Homo sapiens: one gene and its partners. The protein of the gene in region 1 purifies or fractionates together with the protein of each later gene. This does not show direct contact. Each region holds a gene or a part of one and is shown in the gene's direction. Other genes may lie near its edges. The genes, in order: DHX37, UTP14A and NAT10.

Region 1 (8,194 bases):
CCAGCCACTCTAGGAGGGAGTTACTAGTGTTATCACCCCATTTTCCAGATGAGGAGCCTGAGACACTGAGACAGGCCTGACTGTGGGTCACGTGGATAAAAAGTGTCAGGGCTGGGCTGGGAGCTCAGTGTGGCTGGGAGCACTGTCGGGAGTGCCTCCCACAAGTGACATCAAGTCCACTCTGTAGAAACTCCGCAGTGGCTTCCCCTGGCTCTTGAGTCAGCTCCAGAGCAGGCCCCCTCCTGCCTTCCCCCAGACCTGGGTTCCTAGCATTGCCTCCTTACCTGCGTGCCTGCTGCAGGCTCACCACCCCGCCTCTAGCTTTATTGAGATAGAGTTCAGGCACCACACAGTCACCCATTGAAAGTGTGTGGGTCAGTAGTTTCCAGTGTGTTCACAAAGTTGTGCGGACATCACCACCGTGGCCATTTTCATCACCCCAGAAAGGAAGCATGTACCCTTTATCTGTCACCACCTCCCAGCTCCCTGGCCCCTGTGCCCACTCCTCTCCATGGATTTGCCAGTTTGGGACATTTCATGCAGATGGAATCCTACAATGCGTGGCCTTTGTGCCCGGCGTCTTTCCCTGAGTATGATGTTCTCAAGCTCCATCCGTGGTGTAGCGCGTGTCGCTGCTTCACTCCTATTCGCGGCTGAATCATTGTCCATTTTATGGGTGGCCCACGTTTTGTTCATGCACTCCTCCATTCAGAGACGCACAGGTTGCTTCCATCTTTTGGCTATTGTGATAAATTTATTCACGTTATTATTACTATTTTGAGATGGGGTCTCACTCTGTCACCCAGGCTGGAGTACAGTGGTGTGATCTCGGCTCACTGAAACCCCCACCTCCCAGGTTCAAATGATTCTCCTGTCTCAGCCTCCCAAGTAGCTGGGACTACAGGCGAGCGCCACCACACCCGGCTAATTTTTGTATTTTTAGTAGAGATGGGGGTTTCACCATATTGGTCAGGCTGGTCTCGAACTCCTGACCTCAGGTGATCTACCCGCCTCAGCCTCCCAAAGTGCTGGGATTACAGGCGTGAGCCACCGCACCAGGCCAATTTATTCGTATTATGCCTCACTGACTACCTGTGGCCCCTCCTGGTCAAATGACGCTCAGTCCTCATGAGTATAATAGTCTGTTAAAAACCGAAAAAAGCACCCAGCGGGGGCAAAGCACAGCCCTCAGTGCCTAGCCAGTGCTTGGGACGTGTTTTTGAGTGAATGGATGAGGTGAGTGAGTAAAGGAGGCCTTGGGGTTCCATTGGGACCTGGCCTTTGAGAGTGCCCCAGGCCCCTGTGTCCCCACTGGCATGAGCTGAGCCCGGAGAGAGGGGTTGGAGGGAGTGCCTGCCACAGACGGAGCAGGAGCACCGGACTTGTTCTTGGCATTCACCCTGTCCCTGCCACGTCTCCTTGTGTCCCAGGTCATCAACTTCCCCTTCCCGACGCCCCCCTCCGTGGAAGCCCTTCTTGCCGCCGAGGAGCTGTTGATCGCACTGGGTGCCCTGCAACCGCCCCAGAAAGCAGAAAGGTAAGGCCAAGAGATGCAGAGCCCAGTTCCTGCCCCGTTCAGGGCCCTCTCTCCCTTTTGCTGGGCCTGAGCTGCCTCAAGCGTGGGGCCTCCCAGCTGTGGCTCCAGAGCTCCTCTCAGAGCACTGCCACCACCACCTCCATCTCCAGGGTGAAGCAACTGCAGGAGAACCGGCTGAGCTGCCCCATCACTGCGCTGGGCCGGACAATGGCCACATTCCCCGTGGCACCCCGCTACGCTAAGATGCTGGCACTGAGCCGACAACACGGCTGCCTGCCCTATGCCATCACCATCGTGGCCAGCATGACGGTGCGGGAGCTGTTTGAGGAGCTGGACAGGTGCGAGGTTGGCGGCTGGGCACTCAGGGCCAAGCTCAGTTCCGACGGGGGCTCTGGGCTGAGAGTCCCAGCTACTCAGGAGGCTGAGGTAGAAGAATCATTTGAACCCAGGAGGTAGAGGTTGCAGTGAGCTGAGATTGTGCAACTGCACTCTAGCCTGGGCAACAGAGTGAGACCCTTCTCTAAAAAAAGAAAAAGAAAAGTGACACTAAGACTGTGAAAGTATGTTGAAAGTATGTTTAGTGCATTGTGTATTTAACAAAATTTACTTATAGATTATGACTACATGCTAATTCTTAGAATGAACAATTATTTAATAATTTCCTGGCATCCTATTGCGTAGATCTGCCTTTGGCAGCTTAATGATAAAAGGGGTCATTTCTGCAGAGATTTCTGGAAGCAACTTGAGTTTCTCAAGGGCTTGGTAAGTCTTCAGCGTTCACATCATTCCTCCTGAAACCGCCTTTCACGCCATCAGTTTTGACCATCTCTCCCTCAGCTGTGAGCCAGGCTTCTGCTGCCACCATCTCTCGTCCACTGTGAATGGTACAGGCAGGCCCACAATGTCACTTCATCGACTCTGTGAGCCTCTGCATCTTGTGCAAAGCCTGCTGCTTCCCTTAGGGTCAATCTGCCTGTGTTTGGACCATCTTGTCAGATGACAGAGCAGACACTAGTTGGGAAGGCAGTTAGGTGGACACTGGGGAATCTGTTGAGATCTGGATGGTTTTTCTTTGTTTATCCTCCACCACCTCCCCTCCCCGGTCCCACCCACCCTAACCAGGAACTTTGCTTTAGGCCACATCACTGCATGGGCCATTCCATACCGCAGCCACTAACCACACGTGGCCTCAGCCTGTGAAATGTGGCAGTTACGGCAACAAACTGACTTAAAACCTTACTTATTTTTAATAGTTTAAATTTAAACAGCCACATGTGGCTAGTGGCCACTGTATTGGCCAGTGCAGTTCCAGACGTTTCCCTGTGCTCTGCACGGACAGAGTTTTAATTTGAGGAAATGAGATCAGATGGTCCTGTATCTTTTCAGGGTCAGTGCATCTGAACTTCAAAAGCAGCTTTAGCCGGGCATGGTGGCTCACGCCTGTAATCCCAGCACTTGGGAGGCCGAGGCAGGCAGATCACTTGAGAGGTCAGGAATTTGAGACCAGCCTGGCCAACATGGTGAAACCCTGTCTCTACTAAAAATCAAAAAGCGGGCATGGTGATGGACACCTGTAATCCCAGCTATTCGTCAGAATCCCTTGGGGGAGAATAATAGGGTTCTCTGGAGAAACAGAAAGTGGTGTCAGTTTCAGTTGGGGTCTGAAGGCCCAAGAACCAGGAGCATCGAGGGCAGGGAAGACCCAGCTCACGCAGTCAGCAGAGCCCGAAGTCACACCTCCTCTGCCTACTTGGGCCCTCAGTGGATCAGATGTGGCCCACACCCACATTGGGGGAGGGCAGTAGCTTTATGCCAGTCACCAATTCAAAGAAACACCCAGAAATAAGGCTTAATTAGCTATCTGGGCATCCCTTTGCCCAGTCAAGTGGACACATAATTAACCATTACATGTAAGGTCTTGAAAACCAGGTGTCTTGGCCTCTGCCCAGATCTCCTGGTCCCAGCATCTCTAAGACTCCCACGTGATGCTAGTGTCAAGGCTCTGTAGCGTGGTGACTGAGAGCTCAGGTATGGTTCGAATCTCTCTCTGCCATTCTGAGCTGTGTGACCTTAGGCAAGTGACTGTACCACTCTGAGCTTCATTTTCTCCATCTGGAAAATGGGGATGATGATAATGATAATAATTGGATTGTTGGTAGAATTAAATGAGTTAACACAAGCAAAGTGCTTTGAGCCGTGCCTGACACATATGTTAAGTGTTAGTATTATTTTCAGGTTTGGAAGCCACTGGCATCATTCATTTATTCAGTCCACCCTTGGCAGCTATTTAAGCAGTTTGCAGAGTTTTTTATTACCTAAAAATGGTGCAGTGGCCGGGCACGGTGGCTCATGCCTGTAATCCCAGCACTTTGGGAGGCCGAGACGGGCGGATCACGAAGTCAGGAGATCGAGACCATTCTGGCTAACACGGTGAAACTCTGTCTCTACTAAACAAAAAATGCAAAAACTTAGCCGGGCCTGGTGGTGGGCACCTGTAGTCCCAGCTACTCGGGAGGCTGAGTCAGGAGAATGGTGTGAACCCGGAAGGCGGAACTTGCAGTGAACCGAGATCACACCACACCACTGCACTGGGCGACAGAGCGAGACTCTGTCTCAAAAAAAAGAAAAAAAAAAGAACAACAGTGCAGCGGTGGCTGCCAATGGTGAATTTTGAGCTGGACCTTAATACCTTAATTACATTCATCAGTGACCCCACAAGGCCTCTGAGCCTGTCCCGATGAATAAAGGAGTTCCCCCCGCTGAGGCCCTGAGCGCAGCCGAGGCCCCAGCCCAGACAGTATGTATGTGTGTTTGCAGACCAGCGGCCAGTGACGAGGAGCTCACCAGGCTGAAGAGCAAGCGGGCCCGGGTGGCCCAGATGAAGAGGACCTGGGCAGGGCAGGGGGCTTCTCTGAAGCTCGGCGACCTCATGGTGCTGCTGGGTTTGTGCCCTGCCCGTTGGAGGGTGGCGGGAGGGTCACCCAGGTCTGGGATGGGTCAGAGAGAGAGCATGCCCCCTCTTCGTTCCCCAGGCGCCGTGGGAGCCTGTGAGTATGCCAGCTGCACACCCCAGTTTTGCGAAGCCAACGGGCTGCGGTACAAAGCCATGATGGAGATCCGGCGCCTGCGGGGCCAGCTGACCACCGCAGGTACGGCCCCGTGCCGGCACGCCGCTGCACCCGGCGGGCAACCTGACCTGGGCACTTGAAATGTTTAAAAAAGTGATCCATAGAGTCCACGTTTGCAAACTTGCTACGCACCAAAATGTATTTATAACCCTAAATCAATACTTGGGGAGCTTTTCCAGGAACAAGGGAATGTGCACATGAGCAGGGCACTAACAGATTCGAGCTGCCAGCCTGCACCCTCCCCCACCAGGTCGTCGCTCGGTTTCACCTTTTCCCTGGCGATACCCCCTGCCATTTTCCATCACCGCTGTGGCCTGGACCCCTCTTCCCTCCCACATGTCCCCCAGACCCTTCTCATGCAGAAGGATGAGGCCTTGCCCTGGACTCTACCTCAGCTCAGCAGCACAAATACTTCCTGCCACCAACACCCAGGGAAGCTTGAGAGGAAGGAAATGTCCTCCAACATATGGCAAGAGGACGATGCGTAGAGAGGGCAGCGTGGACACTGGGTCTCTTCTGGGCAGGCCACGTTCTTGCACCCAAGGCTAGTGGAGAATTTGCCTTCCATTTAAGCAGATCCCAAGGTTTGATGCCAGAATTGATGGCTCTCTTCCGGCCGATCCTTCTCCCAGCGCCAGGTGCATGGTGGTGGCCCTGTCACCATGCTCTGTGTCCTTCTGGCTGTGGCTTTCCAGAGCAGCCCCATTCCAGGTGCAGCAGCTTAGAATTGCAGTCAGCCTCCAGACAGTGCTGGTTACAGTGGCTTGGTGACATTAGACCTTTATTGTTGCAAGGAAGAGAAGTCACTTGAGTCAGCAGCCCAGGGCGTTTCTCTGCTGCCATCCTCCTGCCATTCGCTGTGCCTTCCATCCTAAGGTCACCTCTTGGGCTGAGGAGGTAGTTGGAGGCTTAGTCACCTCTGCCTTCCAGGCAAGAGAAGGGAAGGATGAGGCCAGGGCACCCGCCGGCTGTCCTGTTCCCGTATTGAACGTTCCCAGGAATTCCAGCCGCAACTTCCTTCTTCACATCATGGACCAGAACTGAGTCTGAGGCCACCTGGGTGTTAGGGGAGGGCTGTCTCCTCGAAGAATGCTCTGCTGCCCAGGCAGGATGTGGGGCTTTGTCCCAAGGGAGAAGGAGGGAATGGGGGGGCGGCTGCAATCCTGCCTGCTGGGGGCTTTGGGTCCTGCTGGTGGCCTCTGGGGAGGGGTTGAGACAAGCAGGTGGCTGAGGCTAGAGCACTGAGCATGGTTGGGACTTTCTAGGAGGTCAGGGCAGAGCTGGCTCCGGGCCTTGCCACCACCGACCTCACTCTTGGTTCTCCCCTCAGTCAATGCCGTGTGCCCCGAGGCTGAGCTCTTCGTGGATCCCAAGATGCAGCCGCCCACCGAGAGCCAGGTGACCTACCTGCGACAGATCGTGACGGCAGGCCTGGGGGACCACTTGGCCCGCAGGGTCCAGAGCGAGGAGATGCTGGAGGACAAGTGGAGGAACGCCTACAAGGTGCGGCCCCCACCGCCTCCCTGCCCGGGTAGCTTGGGGCACCTGGTGAGGGGCAGGCGGGCTGGGCCCTCAGGGTCTGGGGAGGCTTGTTCCCTCTCAGCTGTGGGTCCCCACTGAGGAACAAGTGGGGCTTGCAGTAGAATCACATCTTCCTTGGTTAGTTTCTCCCAACTTTTTTTTTTTAATAACAGTTTAGTGGAGATAAAATTCACACAGCATTTAAACTCTTTTGGGGTTTTTTGTGTTTTCTAGAAACAAGGTCTCGCTCTGTTGCCCAGGATAGAGTGCAGTGGCACAATCATAGCTCACTGCAGCCTCGAATTCCCAGGCACAAATAACCTTCTCGCCACAGCCTCCTGAGTAGTTGGGACTGCAGGGGGCACACCACCACCTCCGACTAATTTTGTTGTTGTTGTTTTCTTTTTTGAGACAGAGCCTCACTCTGTTGCCCAGATTAGAGTATAGTGGTGCGAACTCAGCTCACTGCAACCTCCACCTCCTGGGTTCCAGCAATTTTCCTGCCTCAGCCTCCCAAATAGCTAGGATTACAGGTGTGTGCCACCATGCCCAGCTAATTTTTGTATTTTTAGTAGAGAAGGGGTTTCACCATTTTGGCCAGGCTGGTCTTGAACTCCTGGCCTCAAGTGATCTGCCCACCTCGGCCTCCCAAAACGCTGGGCTTACAAGCAGTGTTACCCAGGCTAGTCTTGAACTCCTGGCCTCTAGGAATCCTTCCACCTTGGCCTCCCAAAGTGTTAGGATGACAAGTGTGACCCACTGCATCTGGCCTGCATTTAAACCCATTTAAAGTGTTCAATTCAGTGGGTTTTAGTATTTTCACAGAGTTTTGCAACCATTATCATAGTTAACTTTAGAACATTTTTATTACCCAACAAAGAAACCCCACATATGTAAGCTGTGAGTCCCCAGTTCCCCGTCACCCCCGTTTTCATGATCCTGCTTTCCATCTGTGGATCTGCCTGTTCTGGACATTTGGCATGAGTGGAATCTTAACATACATGGCTTTTCATGTCTGGCCTCTTGCACTTAGTGTGATGCTTTCAAGCCCCATCCACGCCATGGCAGGTGTCGGTGCTTCCTTTTTTTTTTTTTTTTGAGAAGGAGTTTTGCTCTTATTGCCCAAGCCGGAGTGCAATGGCGTGATCTCAGCTCACTGCAACCTCCACCTCCCGGGTTCAAGCAATTCTCCTGCCTCAGCCTCCCAAGTAGCTGGGATTACAGGTGTGTGCCACCATGCCCAGTTAATTTTTTGTATTTTTAGTAGAAATGGGGTTTCACCAACATGGTGAAACCAGCCAGGCTGGTCTCGAACTCTTGACCTCAGATGATCCACCCTCCTCGGCCTCCCAGAGTGTTGGGATTACAGGCGTGAGCCATTGCACCCGGCACTTCCTTCCTTTTCACGGCTGGATCAGACTCCAGCGTGTGGATGGGCCGCATTTCCCGGCAGATGGAGCACTCTCCCACTTTTGCGGCTGGAGTGGATAATCAGATTCTTCTCCTGGGTTGAAAGTATGCGGAGCCCCTGGGCATGGGTTCTTCCCTGACCACATCACTCTCCATTCTCTGCAGACCCCTCTCCTCGACGACCCTGTCTTCATCCACCCCAGCTCCGTCCTTTTCAAAGAGCTCCCCGAGTTTGTGGTCTACCAGGAAATCGTGGAGACCACTAAGATGTACATGAAAGGTGCCGAGGCCTGCGGACAGCCCCTTGTCCCCCGATGGTGACGCTAATGGGGGTGTGGCTGGGACCCTGGGGCAGAGGCATGGCAGCCCCTCCCACGGAGGGTGCCGCTGTAACCCCAGCTTCCTCCCCCGGCCCCCAGGCGTCTCTAGCGTGGAGGTCCAGTGGATCCCGGCCCTGCTGCCCTCTTACTGCCAGTTTGACAAGCCCCTGGAGGAACCAGCCCCTACATACTGCCCCGAGCGGGGGCGGGTGCTGTGTCACCGGGCCAGCGTGTTCTGTGAGTTGGGGCAGTGTCCTGGGCAACCTGAGCCTCCTGCA
Region 2 (8,194 bases), on another chromosome or scaffold:
TTCTTCCATCTCTCAAAGAAAGCCTAGAAGGCTGTGGTCAAGGTATCCTACAGAGTTTGATGAGATACTTATAGGATAGATGGACATGAATAAAGACAGCTGCCTCTTAGTAACTTAGTCATAATTCATATTTGTACAATTTCATTTTTATTTCAGTTCTCTTAACAATGCTTTGAGTTAGGAGACAGGCAAATATTCTCTTCAGCCAGAGCTCAGAGAGGTCACATTACTTATTCAAGGGCCTTTGCCTAGTACAGTATTTCTCAACCTTTGCTTTTTTATTGCTCCCCTGAGAGGAGCCTTTCAAGCCTTTTTTTTTTTTTTTTTTTTTGAGACAGAGTCTCACTCTATCGCCCAGGCTGGAGTGCAGTGGTGCGATCTTGGCTCACTGCAAACTCCGCCTCCCAGGTTCACGCCATTCTCCTTCCTCAGCCTCCCGAGTATCTGGGACTACAGGTGCCCGCCACCGCGCCTGGCTAGTTTTTTGTATTTTTAGTAGAGACGGGGTTTCACCGTGTTAGCCAGGATGGTCTGGATCTCCTGACCTCGTGATCCACCCGCCGCAGCCTCTCAAAGTGCTGGGATTACAGGCGTGAGCCACCGTGCGCGGCCTCAAGACATTTTTTTCCTCATTGTATCCCTCCCCCTGTGCCCCTTCCCCAGGAAATCAAGTCCTAAGGAATAAGAGTTTGTTGGACAGAGTTGAGCCTTGGAGGGACACAAAACATTGTAATATCTAAGATTTTTTTCATACTCTCCCAGAAAGAACCAATTTTCACCCTGGGGTGGCGGGGTGGTAAAATTGCCCCTGTTCAGAATACATGCTCTAATAAGCGGCAGCCATGGGATTTTATCCTAATACTGAGTCTAGATGCCAAATCTTTTTCACCCTGTTCACAACTTAGGCAGCTAGAATGGGTCTTGCATTTGTAGTAATCACTGGTGTAGCCTCCTAGGGCAAATAACAATGTATTCCAAGCGTACTTATTCAGTGGATATTTATTGTGTTTCTACTAGGTAGCAGTATCAGGAACTGTTGTAGATACCAAGGTTAAAGTAGCGAATAAGATGTGAGCTCATGGGGTTTACATTCTAATGAAGGGAGACAATAAGAGAGGATGATGCAGTAAAGCAACTAAGTGGCTACTTTAGATCGGTTGGTCATGAAAGGCCCCTGAAGAGGCAAAATTGAAGCCGAGATCTGAATGACAAGTCAAGTCAACCATGCAAAGATTGGGGAAAGCATTTCAGGCCAAGGAACAGCTAGCACAAAGGCTCTAAGGTAGAAACATGCACAACATGTTGAAGAATAGGAAAGAGGCCCCTGTGACAAAAGCATTCTAGAGGGTGGGGGTTGATATGAGGTTAGAGAGGCAGATGGGGATTAGATCTCATAGGACCATGTCCTTTAGGTAGATGAGATTCAAAGTATAATGGGGAGTCACTGGAGGATTTTCAGCAGGGTCATGACATGCTGTGGTTTATATTTTCGAAAGATAATTTTGGGCTGGATACAGTGGTTTACACCTGTAATCTCCAGCACTTTGGGAGGCCGAGGTGGGCGGACTGCTTCAGCCCAGCCATTTGAGGCTGGCCTGGGCAACATGGCAAAACCCCATCTCTACAAAAAAAAAATTAAAAAAATTAACCACGCGTGGTGGCACGCGCCTATAGTGCCAGCTACTTGGGAGGATTGCCTGAGCCTGGGAGGCAGAGATGGCACCACTGCTCTCCAGCCTAAGTGACAGAGTGAGACCCTGTCTCAAAACAAACAACAACAACAGCAAAAAGATCACTTTGGCTGTTTTTATTTTTGGCTGTTATGTGAAGAATGAATTGCAATGGGGCAAGAGTAGAAGCACCAGGAGAAAAGCAAATGAGTTTTGAATAAATATTTTCCCCTATCTTCTACCCCCTAACACGTTTGGGGATGAATGTAGAAGAGTGATAGTGTTGGCATGGCTAGAAATAGGCAATTGAAGTAAGAGAATTATTCTTGCTTCTCTGCACATTTGCCATCTACTGGCATTTTCTACTGAGGCTTCTCCCTACATTATATTGAGATCTTGTCTCACTTCTTGGTCTGACCAGAAAGTTTGACCTTTCCACAGGATCAGGAGAAAAGCTGGTCCTTGCAGATCTGCTTGAGCCTGTTAAAACTTCATCTTCTTTGGCCACTGTGAAAAAGCAACTGAGTAGAGTCAAATCAAAGAAGACAGTGGAGTTACCTCTGAACAAAGAAGAGATTGAACGGGTAAGCTACAGAGAAGGTGGTCTATTAAGGGAAAGAAATTGAATTGACAAGGGAAAATAGGGTAATAGAAAGAAGGGAAAGACCTGAAAAATGGGAGAAGGGGGAGTTGTGATTTCCCCACTATGGATAAGATTAAAAATAATCTAGGAGTGCCAGGCGCGGTGGCTCACGTCTGTAATCCCAGCACTTTGGGAGGCTGAGGTAGGCGGATCACCTGAGGTCAGGAGTTCGAGACCAGCCTGTCCAACATGGTGAAACCCCGTCTCTACTAAAAATACAAAATTAGCCGGGTGTGGTGTAATCCCAGCTACTTGGGAGGCTGAGGCAGGAGAATCCCTTGAACCAGGACGTGGAGGTTGCAGTGAGCTGAGATTGCACCATTGCTCTCCAGCCTGGGCAACACGAGTGAAACTCCATCTAAATAATAATAATAATCTAGGAGAAATTGCAGTCCTGAGAAGCAAGAGGACTAGCATCCTGATTCTTTCATCCTGATTCTAGCATCCTGATTCTTTCTTGGGCTAAGAAATGTTGCTTCCTAATTTCTTGTTAGTCCTTTGGGTTTGATGCTTTAATCTTGTGGCTCTTTCCGTTTACATGCCTTGCCTGCTTCAGATCCACAGAGAAGTAGCATTCAATAAAACCGCACAAGTCCTCTCCAAATGGGACCCTGTCGTCCTGAAGAACCGGCAGGCAGAGCAGCTGGTTTTTCCCCTGGAGAAAGAGGAGCCAGCCATTGCTCCCATTGAACATGTGCTCAGTGGCTGGAAGGTGAGTACAACAAAATGAAACTGAAAGGTGAGATTTTATAAGTTGGAGATTTCAGAGCCTGCAATTGATTTGATTGGACATGTTAAGCTAAACCCCAGCATAAGTCATTTTAGCTTAGTGCTCAGAAAGAAGGGGTTGCCCATCGTCATTGTCAGTCATGTGATAGCCAGTCACAATAGCTCTGTGATCACTTTTTTTTTTTTTTTCTTGAGACAGGGTCTTGCTCTGTCGCCCAGGCTGGAGTGCAGTGGCACGATCTCAGCTCACTGCAACCTCTGCCTCCTGGGTTCAAGCAATTCTCCTGCCTCAGCCTCCCAAGTAGCTGGGATTACTGGCGTGCACCAACACGCCCAGCTAATTTTTTTTTTTTTGGATTTTTAGTAGAGATGGGGTTTCACCATGTTGGCCAGGCTGATCTCAAACTCCTGACCTCAAATGATCCGCCCACCTCAGTCTCCCAAAAGTTTTGTGATTACGGGCATGAGCCAATGCGCCCGGTCTCTGTGTCACTTTTCATCTGCTTGTAGTATACAGTACTTGCTATTTCCATGTTTTTGTGTTAAACCATGTGATTGCCCGTATAGCAGGAACATAATAATGTTTTCTTTCTTTTACCCCAGTTTTTAAAAAGCATTTAAAGCCACATTCTGATCCTAGGGAAATCAGGAACTCGATAACATTAATGATGCCTTAGTGAGGATATGTGAACAACAGAAGCCAAACTTTGCTTGTACAGGAATACCGCATTAAAATATAATGTGTTGCTGGCAATGACTAGAACTTCAGCAGGTAACTTACTATGACTCTGAGCTGCAGGGCAGGGGTTGATGTTTTAGAGCTGGGTTTCCCAAACACTGACCCCTAACAAAGTTTGTGTCTGAAGCAAAAGGATAATTCTAAGTATGTTTGTTTGGTGGGTGTAATGTTGCCAGTTCTTTTTTATTATGAGGTTATTCTATTTTAATGGTGTTGAAATATCTTTTCTTCTATGAAATGATGGTGGTAGTAAATGATGGGATTGGGGGTGAAATGGTAGTTATGCTCTTGGCAAAATTAGAAGTTGGAAATCCTATGTTGGTCCCTGAAGTCCGGTTTTTAGTCCGAATAACTGCTTTAGAACAGCTAGCCTACTTTTCCAATACACCATTGGTATGGAGTCTATAATGGGCTGATTAGTCTTAAATAGATGCCCTCTTTGTGCTTCTCCTCTTTACTTTCCAAAAACCCAAGAATGGTAGTTTCTTAGGCGTTGGGAAGTTGAGCTAATTAAAGCTAATCAAAGTAAACATTGCTTGCCACAATAGCTAGAAATTGAGCGAGTAGTTGCTTATTATGGGGATAAGCTGTTTCTGATGTTTTTGCTGAAGTCACTACCATTCTCTTTCTAGGAGGCTTCCTTTTCTACATGAAAAAGAGATCAGGTTTAAAGTGTGGCTGCAGGATGAAGGGAGACTTTAGAAAAAAAAAATCAGAGGTAATACAATTTGTAGGATTCAAAAATAAAAAAGCATAGAAGATATGTAGTGAAAAGTTTGATTCCACCCGTGCCCCATCTGATCATTTTTACCCCCATACTCACCCAGAAGTAACCACTTGCATAAGTTTGCTGTTGTTGTTGTCTTAGAGTTTTATTTCTATATTCATGTTTACCTCCTTTTTAAATAAAAAGAAGGGTAGCATGCTACTACACACTGTCCTCCACCTTGCTTTTTCCAAATGACAGTGTAATCTTGGAGATAGCAGGAAAATGCCAAGTTTGTTATTAAAAACGAGATGGGGCCGGGTGTGGTGGCTCACGCCTGTAATCCCAGCACTTTGGGAGGCCGAGGCAGGTGGATCACCTGAGGTCAGGAGTTTGAGACCATCCTGGCCAACATGGCGAAACCCCATCTCTACTAAAAATACAAAAATTAGCGGGGCATGGTGGTGTGTGCCTGTAATCCCAGCTACTAGGGGGGCTGAGGCAGGAGGATCACTTGAACCTGGGAGGCGGAGGTTGCAGTGAGCCGAGATTGTGCCACTGCACTCCAGCCTGTGCAATAGAATGAGACTCTGTCTCAAAATATATATATAAATAAATAAAAAATAAAAACTAGATGGTAGTGGAGGAGGTTACACTAAGAATAGAACAACCTCTTCAAGATAGAGTGAGGCTCAGATGTCATACATTGAATATACCATGCCGTTCATTCATTCTAAGACTGACTTTTGAGAAATTATGCTAGTAGGGCACAGAGAAATAAGGAAGTGCTTAGTTCAGAGGGTGCTTTGTGGCTAGCAACTCCTAGGTCTCTCCTTACAACTTAGATTGCAAAGTACCAACAACTAGTATATGCTGTATTAGGATTTCTAGAAACTGAATATCAAGTCTCAGACCAGGCACGGTGGCTCACGCCTATAATCCAAGCACTTTGGGAGGCTGAGGCAGGTGGATCACCTGAGGTCAGGAGTTCAAGACCAGCCTGGCCAACATGGTGAAACCTCGTCTTTACTAAAAATATGTAAATTAGCCGGGCATGGTAGCACATGCCTGTAGTCTCAGCTGCTGAGGAGGCTGAGGCAGGGGAATTTCTTGAATCCAGGAGGCAGAAGGTACAGTGAGCCGAGATCACGCCACTGCACTCCAGCCTGAGGAAAAAAAAAAACCCTCTACTCTTTCCCCGCCCTCCCCCAAAAAAAAGAAAAGAAAATCGAAAGTCTGTACTATAGTTTTGGTCCAGCTCCCTAAAATTTTGTTTAGCTGCAAATAATTAAGTGGGATAATGCATGAGAAGGCATTTGTAAACTGCAAAGTGCTAGAAATGCTGTGAGGTAACTTCTTTCACCCCTCTCCTCACTATTCTCTGTCTACAGTGGTATTTCCCAAGGCATTCTCCTTGAAACCTTAGTCTCTCATTATGCCTTCACAAGAGGAGGAGAGGAGGCATTGCTAGAAAATGCTGCATGCCCCTACTGGAGATCGGAGAGTCACAACATGCTTTAGCATTTTAAAGTCTATGAAACAGGCCAGACGGATGTGGTGGCTCACGCCTGTAATCCCAGCACTTTGGAAGGCTAAGGCGGGTGGATCACCTGAGGTTAGGAGTTTGAGACCAGCCTGACCAACGTGGCAAAACATCGTCTCTACTAAAAAATATTAAAAAATTAGCTGGACGTGGTGGCTTATGCCTGTAATCCCAGCTACTCAAGAGGCTGAGGCACCAGAATCGCTTGAACCCAGGAGGCGGAGGTTGCAGTAAGCCAAGGTTGGGCCACTGTACTCCAACCTGGGCAACAGAGTGAGACTCTGTCTCAAAAATAAAAAATAAAAATAAAGGCTATGGGCCGGGCGTGGTGGCTCACGCCTGTAATCCCAGCACTTTGGGAGGCTGAGGTGGGTGGATCACAAGGTCAGGAGATCGAGACCATCCTGGCTAACACGGTGAAACCCCGTCTCTACTAAAAATATAAAAAATTAGCTGGGCACGGTGGCGGGCGCCTATAGTCCCAGCTACTTGGGAGGCTGAGGCAGGAGAATGGCATGAACCTGGGAGGCGGAGCTTGCAGTGAACCAAGATCGTGCCACTGCACTCCAGCCTGGGCGACAGAGCGAGACTCTGTCTCAAAAAAAAAAAAAAAAAAAGGCTATGAAACAATGGTGAAGACACCTGTTGGATCTAATTTAACTTAGGGTGTACAAACTGATTTTATTAAAATTTCAAAAAAATTGAATTTTAAGCTTTTAACAGGGGAGGCAAATCTTGTTATCTGATGAGAAATGTGTTTGGGGAAGAGCTGGTCTGTCTCCACTGCTGCCTCCTCTCTCTCACCTTCTTCCCCTACTGCCCTACTGAAACTTCTCTCAAAAGGCATTAGTGAGGGGCCTCCGAATTGCCAAATCCCAAGCCCTCTTAGTCTTTAGCATATTTGACACCATTGGCACATTTCATTCTAAAAATCTCTCCCCTCTAGCTTCTGTGATATACTCTGGGTATTTTCTCTCTCTGGCTTTCCTTAGTCCTTTTTATTCTTGCTCTGTAAATTCCATGACTTTTTTTTTTTTTTTTTTTTGAGACGGAGTCTTGCTCTGTCGCCCAGGCTGGAGTGCAGTGGTGCAATCTCGGCTCACTGCAAGCTCCACCTCCCGGGTTCACGCCATTCTCCTGCCTCAGCCTCCCAAGTAGCTGGGACTACAGGTGCCCGCCACCACGCCCAGCTAATTTTTTGTATTTTTTAGTAGAGACGGGGTTTCACCGTGTTAGCCAGGATGGTCTCGATCTCCTGACCTCGTGATCCGCCCACCTCGGCCTCCCAGAATGCTGGGATTACAGGAGTGAAAATTTCATAACTTTCGACTATCACTCTCAACCCCTTCTTTGAAGCTCCAGTCTCATATTCCATGTGACTAGCAGGGATCACCTGGGTCCCCCATATGCACCTTAAACTTAGTCCAGTCCAAAGTAAGCTTCGCATTTCCTTTCCCCAGACTTCCAAAACCTATACCACCCCCTTCATTCTGCAACTCAGTTAACAGCATAACTCCCTACCCCAGTCACTTAGGTTGGAAACCTCAGTCATTTGATTCCTTCTTGACCCCTTCACTGTCTCCCTCTCCGCCAGCTTATACAGGGGGCTAGACCTGCAAATTCTGTCTCTGTAATAGCCCTTATGCTCCTATTTTCTCTTCATTTTCATTTTCACTGCCCTAATCGAGGCCCTCATTGAACCTTTCCTTTGGAACTTTACATATATCCTCTACACAATCAGCAGGATTTTCTTGCTGAAACACAGTTGATCATTGCTCTCCTGCTTAAAATCCTTCAAAGGCTGTTCACTTACAGAATAAAATAAAATTACGTAGCATTTTAGCTATGCTGGACAACACGTTGTTCTATTACATACCACTCCTTTCCCTGTGTCTGTGTTTTTTGCTTATGCTCATCTGTTTGGATTTTTTTTCCTCCTGACAGAATTGTACTTAGGCCTCAAAGCCTAATTCAAAAGGTCACTTCCTTCCCTAAGCCTAACCTACCTCCCAATAATATTTAATGGTAATTTCCTCTGTGATTACCCCTATAGAATAACGTAGCAGTTATGTTATTTAAGGGTAACATAAAGGGTATTTAACCCATTATGTTATGCTGTTTGTGTTGTATATGTCTCTGCTCTCAAAGGCTGTGAGCTCTATGA
Region 3 (8,194 bases), on another chromosome or scaffold:
ACCGAATCCGGATTCTCATTGAGAATGGAGTAGCTGAGCGGCAAAGATCTCTCTTTGTTGTAGTTGGGGATCGAGGAAAAGATCAGGTATGGCCTGGTAAATGCTTCCTGAATTACTTTTTATCTTGTCCAAAGAATCAGCATGTTTAAGCACTCTGCTGTTTCAGGACATAATGGCATTAAGATCTCTTTGGCTGGTAAGATGCCTAGTGGGAACCTTTCTTTATTTCCTGGAAGTGGTGAATTCTCTGTATTTAGATTGATTCGCAGACAAGCTAATACCTTTTGAAGCCTGGGGTGGTGGGTTGACCACAAAGTGAACTGTATGTGACCTGGCTTCTAGTCCAAACCTGGTCATTGCTCGCCTTAGAACCTTGGGCACTTCCCTTCCCTGGCCCTCAGTTTAGTTTCCACATCCGTCAAATGAGGTCTTAAGCCTGGCGGTCTCTAAAGTCTCTTTTGTGCCTGAAATTCTGTGACTTTTTTGTTTGGCAGGTGGTAATACTTCATCACATGTTATCCAAAGCAACTGTGAAGGCTCGGCCTTCAGTGCTGTGGTGTTATAAGAAAGAGCTGGGGTTTAGCAGGTAAGCTGGGCTCTTCATGTGTTTTATCCAACTTACAATTCCTGCTCATTAGTTAAATGCCAGGAAATGATTCCTTCACATATTTTTTAAGGGTCTTTAGTGGAGGTGCTATCTCTGAGGACAAATGGAGCTGATATCCTTTCTTCATTCCTGAAAATAAGTTTCAAATCATTTTCATGCTTTTTAAGTCACCAATCCAATGCCTTGCCTTCTGCATATGGTTTTCCTTCCTGCTTTTCTAGGCTGATTAAGCCCATCTCATTGCAAGTTCCTTCAAACTGTCTTTCCTACCTCAAATTTATTCCACTTTTCACTCTCTCTCTTTTTCTCCCCTTCTTTCATGGAGGGGGTATATGCCTCATCCCATGTCCAAGGAAAACCCCTTTATGTACCCTGTGTCTCCTCCCTCACCTCTTTCAGGACCTGTATTGTCTTTCCTCTGCTGGCCACCCAATACCCTTTGGAAACTTTCTCCTTCCTGTAAACATGCTCAGATTTTTCTATTATCAAAAGCTGATTACTTACATACCCAGATTTCTCTCTCAGGTTAGCATTTCCCCCGATTTTTATTGCCATATACCTTAAAACAGAAATCTTTTGCACTTAGTAGCCACTTTTGCAGTCTGGTTTCTGCTTCTATAATTGTGATCAAATTGTGCAGTTAGACATCCCCAGCAGCTTGATGCCTAATGCGTCAACTTTTCTCTCTCTTTCTCCTCCTTTTCAGAGCTCTGCCTCTTCTTCTACCAGTTCACTGCTGTATTTGACAGTTGGCTATTTGAAGCTGTGGTAGTCAAGACTTTTAGTCATAGATAACATACTTTCAACACAAATACAATTTGGCACAAAGGGATTTCATTGAGGTATATGGGATATTTCCTGGAATCCAAGGGGATAAGATTTCAGCTCTGCTCACGGGTGATCTAGAGTCACAGTACTAATGCTCCCAGCTCAGTTTGTCATCTCAGTGTATCTGCTCTATGCAGACCAACTTTCTCACTGCAGACCAGCTTTCTGTTTTCTGTTGTCCCCCTAGCAGAAACAACACTTGCGTTTTCCTTGTTTCAGGCCCAGCCATGTGGAAATCAGACTTTTTCCCAAAATTCTGGTGGAAAAATGCCCACACCTGGCCAGAGGAGGGTGGGGTTGGTCATAGCATAATACAAAGTTGGAAGTTCTACCTACAACTTTGTGTTTGGAGAAGTTTGGATGGGGTGGGTAGTGCTGTTCCTTGGCAGATAACCACCATGGCATCACCTAAGAAATAGTCTCCTTTTTTGGCTTCAGTGTCTTTACTCAGACCACCTTCCGGAGCTCTTCTCTTTCTCTGGATCTCGTCTCCTTACTCTAAACCTAGCTGGCTTGTGCGATTCTGTCCTTGAGCCTCTTCTAATTTCCAAATGTGCTCATCTCCGATCTGACTCTGAAAGCCTGTCTCCAGCTCTGGTTGCTTTATGCTGTGACTAACCTCCCTCCTTTTCTTTGCTCATGCTGTCTCCTCTGCTTGGAATGCCACTTCCACCTCCCCGGTATCACCTATTGAAATCCTGTTTCTCAGGGCCTGCCTCCTCCGTGAAACTTTTCCTGAGCCCCCCAGTCATACCTGGTGGTTCCTCTACCTTCCTCTGCACTTGTCCTTCTCCTATAATGTTTGCCAATGGATGCTTTTGCTTTAGGGTAAAGTCACTTACATACTGTGACTTACGTTCATTTTTTTTTCTTTCCCTTTTTTTTTTTTTTTTTTTTTTTTTACTTTCAGGTGATAAGCTTATTTAGTTAGGAGCCCTCTTCTATTTATCTTTGTATTTTCATACTTTTAACTGATTTAGCATGTTTATCATAGGTACTCAGTATACATTGAGTTGGATGTGTTGTTAACAGGCTCTAAAATTATTTTAATTTAAATTAGTACCAGAGGCTAAACTTGCCCCTGTCCTGTGGTCTTAAAGTGAAGGGATTCTGCCTAAAGGAAACCAGACAATCATAAGAGCCTTACTGATGAAATGTGAAAAGTGCAGAAAACCCAAAGATGAAAATAAAAAACATCTCACTGTCTAGGCATTGTCAGCATCTAGGTGTATCTTACAGGGATGTAGTTTTGAACCATAATTGGTATTCTGTTGTATATACTCTCATATTTAGAGAGGTAGGCATTTTTAATACAGATTGAGAATAAGGCCTGTTGTCTATCCCAGAATTTTAAGTTTTTAGGGCTTCTGGTTTTCACTATTTTTCATTTGGCAAATATGAGATGGGTGTGGAATTAGGCAGTTCAAAGTCTTCTGGGCAGATTTGCCTTTTGAATTTAAACCACCTGGCTTCACTTCTAAAAATCTACTTTTGTACCTCTTATAGCTCTTCTGCCCCACCCCTGTCTTAGTCTGGCAGAGCATTGTGTTCAAGCTAATGCCTGTTTGTAAGTCACGGGCTTAAGGCCTGAGCCAGAAGGGACAGTGGAGACAAACTCACCCACTGCCTTGGTTCATAGATGAGGAAGTGGAGGCCCACAGGAGGAAAGGCCTTTGTTCTAGCTATTAAGTTAGAGAACTATGGTAAAATTTTGATCAGCTGTAATCCTCCATTCTAGAACATTCTAATTCTCTCTTTTGGTAAAGGAAAGGTAAGTAGCAACTGGATATGCAGGGTTTTTAAGACCAAAAAAATTCAGGAATTCCTTAGAGATGTCCAGATTCCATTCTGATCCCTGTGTCCTGTATCATTATTGTCTTATGTAAGACCTGCCCTTGAAGACATAATCCCACATTCTCGGGGAGGAAGTCCTCTAGGAAGGATGAATAAAGTAACGTGCCATCACCTTGTCTTTCCTAGGATCTCTGGGGAACAGCACAGTGTAGTTGAAGCATTGGCTTATGACTGAGATAATGAGGCCACTCAGGTTTGGTTTCAAGCTCTGGCTTTGGCCAAATGTGAGGGTTAGCTACCCTATTACCCATCTTTTAAAGCAAAGTATTTGCTCAAGGTCACAGGGCAAAATAGCAGAGTTCACACATAGACTTATCACTTACTCCAAGCCCTTAAGCACTCTAATGCCTCTCATGCCTCTCCACTGCCCTCCACCTGAAGTGGGCCTCACACTTTCAAGTTCCCTACTAGCTCTGAAAGTCTAAGTGGGTGATCACTGAGCCTTTCCCCTGGTTCCAGCTCTTTAGCTGCTCTGGTTAACTGGCTCTCATGGGATTGGGGGTGTGTGATTGCAGTCACCGGAAGAAAAGAATGCGACAGCTGCAGAAGAAAATAAAGAATGGAACACTGAACATAAAGCAGGACGACCCCTTTGAACTCTTCATAGCAGCCACAAACATTCGCTACTGCTACTACAACGAGACCCACAAGATCCTGGGCAATACCTTCGGCATGTGTGTGCTGCAGGTGGGTGGCTTCCTCTAACCTGTGATTGAAGTCAGAGTCTTGAGGGTTGCTTGGGCTGCCTGGCTTTCCACTGGGAACAGATGTACAGTAAGGAGAGGAGAGTCCCATGTTCCCTATGCCCAAGCATTATTAGTGGAAGTCCTGGCCACTTTCCAAAGTACACTCGGTCACCTACCCCATATAAAAAGAGAATTTTAAATCAGCACTTGTCTAGAGACACCAGAACTGAAGTGATGAGTTATTATAACGGGTTCTAACTAGCTAAAGCTGATAAAGCAAATGCCAGAGACTTTGAGTGCCTCTAGGACCCTAGGTCCTTATTGGCATTCACCAAAGACTTTTTTTGTCCAGTGAGCAATGGGACTTGTTTTCCAACCGGATATAGACCAATGCACTTAAATGTCCTGTCCAGAGTGCCTGAGTGGCATACCCACCATGAAGGCCCCTCTCCCCTTTTCTAGCCCTTAAAAACCCCTCACTTTACCTCTCAGAGACTACTTGGTGAATTTCTGCACTGGTGTGTATTCTCTTGCCTGGCAAGTTAATAGACTAAGTTTCACTTTGTGTGTGTGTGTGTGCATGTGTGTGTAAGCACTGGTGGTCTTTGTTTTATTCTTTGTTTCTTTGATTCCTGTGCCACCTCCCTTCCCCATTCTCCCAAAAAAGACAAGACAAAATTAAGCACAAATCCTCACATTTTTGTGTGTTTATCATATACACTTACAACTGTGCCCATTATTATGTCAAGTTACATACCTTGCAAAATATGGGTTGTCTCCTATACTGCTGGCTTGCATCTCACCTTGGAGGCCAAGAAAGAGGGCATTATGCCTCATTTTCACCTTTACTCAGGGAAATGCCCTGGGTTATCACTGATTGGTAGGGAGTGGTCTTCTACTTGCTGCCATGATCAATTGCCTGAATAATGACTCCTGTGAGCAGTAGCTCCCCCATGTAGTATAGTTTTGTCAAACAGGTTTGAGCTATAAATGTCAGAAAATGTAAGATGTTTCTGAAATTCAAGTATGAATCAGTGAAGGTTGGAAAATTTGTTTCCAAATAGGATTTTATCAGAGACATTTTTGACATATAAAACTAACAACGTCTCTAATAAGAGACCCGTTTTTGGCATATAAAACCAGGTATTCGTATATTCGAGGGTTTGGCCCTCTTCTGTGGTACCCCTGTGTGTGTATCCTGGGAAGTCAAGGTGGGAACAGGTATGGTCTTGGCTTTGTGCTCTGAAGTCTTCTTTTTGCCTTATCACCTGGCTTTTGGTTAAGAGTCCCTTGGGTTGGGCCAGGCGCGGTGGCTCATGCCTGTAATCCCAGCACTTTGGGAGGCTCAGGTGGGTGGTGAGCCAAGATTGCGCCACTGCACTCCAGCCTGGGCGACAGAGCAAGACTCCATCTCAAAAAAAAAAAAAAAAAAAAAAAAGTCCTTTGGGTTGCTATTTGCATGACCAGCCCTTTCTAACGCCCCCTTCTTCCAGGATTTTGAAGCCTTAACTCCAAACTTGCTGGCCAGGACTGTAGAAACAGTGGAAGGTGGTGGGCTAGTGGTCATCCTCCTACGGACCATGAACTCACTCAAGCAATTGTACACAGTGACTATGGTAAGCATCTGTTTTTTAACTTAATTGTGAGGGTTCAAGTAAATCTGTTTTTGCTGTGTTCTGCTTTCTTTAAAGAATTCCTGTTGGGCAGCTCCAGTGAGTAGTCAGCACAGCCTCTGGGCTAAGAGCTCTTTGATTTTAACTAATGAAAAAGTCACTACAGTTAAATCTCAGGGTCCATGAGTATGCCTAGGAATCTCTGAATTTCACCTTTGTTTTCAGGCACTTGCAAATTCTACACCAGTGAGATTCAGATATGATACAGCTTTTATGTAGTTAAATTTTCTGGAATGATATTGTACAAGGAGCAATGCCAGTGCCTAAATTTGTGTATTGCAAAAAAAGGACCATGTGCAGACTGCTCACTGGCCCTTATCCTAATGGATGACGAAGGAACATTTGCCAGTTGTACTCCAGTTTGGCAAGAATTTCAACTCCAGCAGAGATTGTGTTCTCCCAAAGCAAAAGACACTGACTGAGGACATGGTGAGGAATTAGGGATATGTCTCACCTGATGCAGAGCTGGTCTCCTCACTTTATCAGCGTTGCCAAGTCAGTGTTCAGAGGCAAGTTTTAAGTCATGCCCATGTCCAGCAGCTCAGTAATGGTGGTCGGATTGGACTTAGGGTTTCCTGAGCTGCATTTATCTGATGAAATGGACTTTCCTCAAATCTTAGGGGCTGTTTCCTGTCATTACTTCTCCCTTCATCACTTGCACTACAGCCCTTTTGGCCTCCTCAAATGTCCTCAGACATGCCCAGCACACACTCCTGCGAGGGCCTCGGCACTTGCTGTTCCCACTGGAATGTGCTTCCTCTGGACCTCTGCCTGGCTCGCTTCCTCATTGCATTCAAGCCCCTGCTCAGATATCACCTCATCCATGTGGTCTTTCCTCACACCCTGTTTACAGTAGGCAGCTCCGCCTGTCACTCCTTAACCGGCTTTATTTTTCTTCAAAGCACTTGACAATGACCTAAAGTTATTATTATTATTTGTCTGTCCTCCTGTACTAGTCTCTAAATTTCACTGGAGGGCCGATCACAGTGGCTCACGCCTGTAATCCTAGCACTTTGGGAGCCTGAGGTGGGCGGATCACCTGAGGTCAGGAGTTTGAGACCAGCCTGGCCAACATGGTGAAACCTCGTCTCTACCAAAAATACAAAAAAAATTAACCAGGTGTGGTGGTGCACACCTGTAATTCCAGCTACTAGGGAGGCTGAGGCAGGAGAATTGCTTGAACTCAGGAGGCGGAGGTTGCGGTGAGCTGAGGTCACGCCACTGCACTCCAGCCTGGGCAACAGAGCAAGACTCCGTCTCAAAATAAATAAATAAGTAAATAAATTTGATGGGAACAGAGAGTTAGTTTTCTTTGCTGTTGCATTTCCAGATCTTAGAAGAGTTCCTGGCATTTAGTAAGCATTCCTTAGATAGTTGAGAGTGAATGAATGACTTTGTGCTCACATCAGTTTGTTCTTCCTCTCCCTCTGACATAGCTACCTACTTACCCTTCAGGCCTCAGCTTATCTCAGAGAGGCCCTCCCTCACTACCCTACATAAGTGACCCCCACTTGCTATCCGTGCAGTCTATATTTCATATGTAGCATTTGTCAAAATTTGTATTTATCTACTAATTTTTCTTCCTCCATCCATTATACTCCAAGTGCCATGAGAACAGAGGTCATGCTTTGTTCATTAGTGTATGCACAGCATATCTGGCACACAGCATGCCAATTTTATGAAATAAATGAATATAACTTAGGATGCTAGGAAAAATGTGGAAAAGTGAAAGATTTTAATAAGCAACGTTGCATTCAGTGTCTGATCCCAGTTTCAGCAAATACCATTTGGCACAGCAGTGTGTGTGGGAGTGATTTTGTTTCCAGCAAGATTGCCCATGTCTCCTTGGATAGAGCTTTGTATTTGGACCCTGGTCCTCAGCACTGTTTGCATGCCTTTGTTAATGGATGTTGTCTTTCTTTGTTAGGATGTGCATTCCAGGTACAGAACTGAGGCCCATCAGGATGTGGTGGGAAGATTTAATGAAAGGTAATTCTATAGTTCCCCCCAATTGTGGGGCAGCCACATTGGGAGGGACATTTTTATCTTGGACTCAACTGAAAACTTTGCTTTTATATTGGGGAAAGTAGTACAATATTCCAAAAATGATGAGATTCTTGACAGCAGCAGCAGTTGTGAGACTAACTGGAAGCAGTGAAACGTGGTGGAAAGTTGGAGCCAGGAAACCTCAATTTTGTCTTGCTGCTGGCCTTGACAGCTCAGTTAAACCAGGTTACTCTCTCTGGTTCTTAGCTTACTCATCTTTTAAATGAGTGATTTTTCTGGATCACTGCTTCCCAGAAGATATTTCATAGAGCAGTAGTCTTTCCAAACTTTTTATTATGAATATGACGTACTGGCATAGTAAAAATGATTAAGAGAAATATGGGAGGTGGGGTGAGATGTAATTAGAGGCAGAAAAAGGCGACAAAGTGTTTCTTCTGAGCAAAGGAACACCCATAATTTCAAATATGGTGTACGGTTTGTTATCTGAAATTAAATTTGTATGTATTTATTTTTATTTTATTTATTTATTTTTTTGAGAT

The links.
Region 2: the proteins of DHX37 (region 1) and UTP14A purify together in Homo sapiens (affinity purification with mass spectrometry; 2 studies listed by BioGRID and IntAct, with this or other methods). This does not show direct contact.
Region 3: the proteins of DHX37 (region 1) and NAT10 fractionate together in Homo sapiens (co-fractionation; 2 studies listed by BioGRID). This does not show direct contact.

What each region holds. Positions count from the first base shown.
Region 1 is NC_000012.12:124,950,372-124,958,565, reverse strand, and holds part of DHX37 (probable ATP-dependent RNA helicase DHX37), read left to right. Parts: intron 1-1,430; coding exon 1,431-1,537; intron 1,538-1,686; coding exon 1,687-1,875; intron 1,876-4,354; coding exon 4,355-4,479; intron 4,480-4,569; coding exon 4,570-4,686; intron 4,687-5,595; coding exon of another isoform or gene 5,596-5,615; exon of another isoform or gene 5,616-5,752; intron 5,753-5,995; coding exon 5,996-6,168; intron 6,169-7,761; coding exon 7,762-7,876; coding exon of another isoform or gene 7,877-7,913; intron 7,914-8,015; coding exon 8,016-8,153; intron 8,154-8,194. UniProt on the Homo sapiens protein: ATP-binding RNA helicase that plays a role in maturation of the small ribosomal subunit in ribosome biogenesis. Required for the release of the U3 snoRNP from pre-ribosomal particles.
Region 2 is NC_000023.11:129,908,897-129,917,090, forward strand, and holds part of UTP14A (U3 small nucleolar RNA-associated protein 14 homolog A), read left to right. Parts: intron 1-2,111; coding exon 2,112-2,254; intron 2,255-2,869; coding exon 2,870-3,025; intron 3,026-3,682; exon of another isoform or gene 3,683-3,795; coding exon of another isoform or gene 3,796-3,814; intron 3,815-4,413; coding exon of another isoform or gene 4,414-4,499; intron 4,500-8,194. UniProt on the Homo sapiens protein: May be required for ribosome biogenesis.
Region 3 is NC_000011.10:34,108,248-34,116,441, forward strand, and holds part of NAT10 (RNA cytidine acetyltransferase), read left to right. Parts: coding exon 1-86; intron 87-494; coding exon 495-586; intron 587-3,804; coding exon 3,805-3,976; intron 3,977-5,468; coding exon 5,469-5,591; intron 5,592-7,575; coding exon 7,576-7,637; intron 7,638-8,194. UniProt on the Homo sapiens protein: RNA cytidine acetyltransferase that catalyzes the formation of N(4)-acetylcytidine (ac4C) modification on mRNAs, 18S rRNA and tRNAs.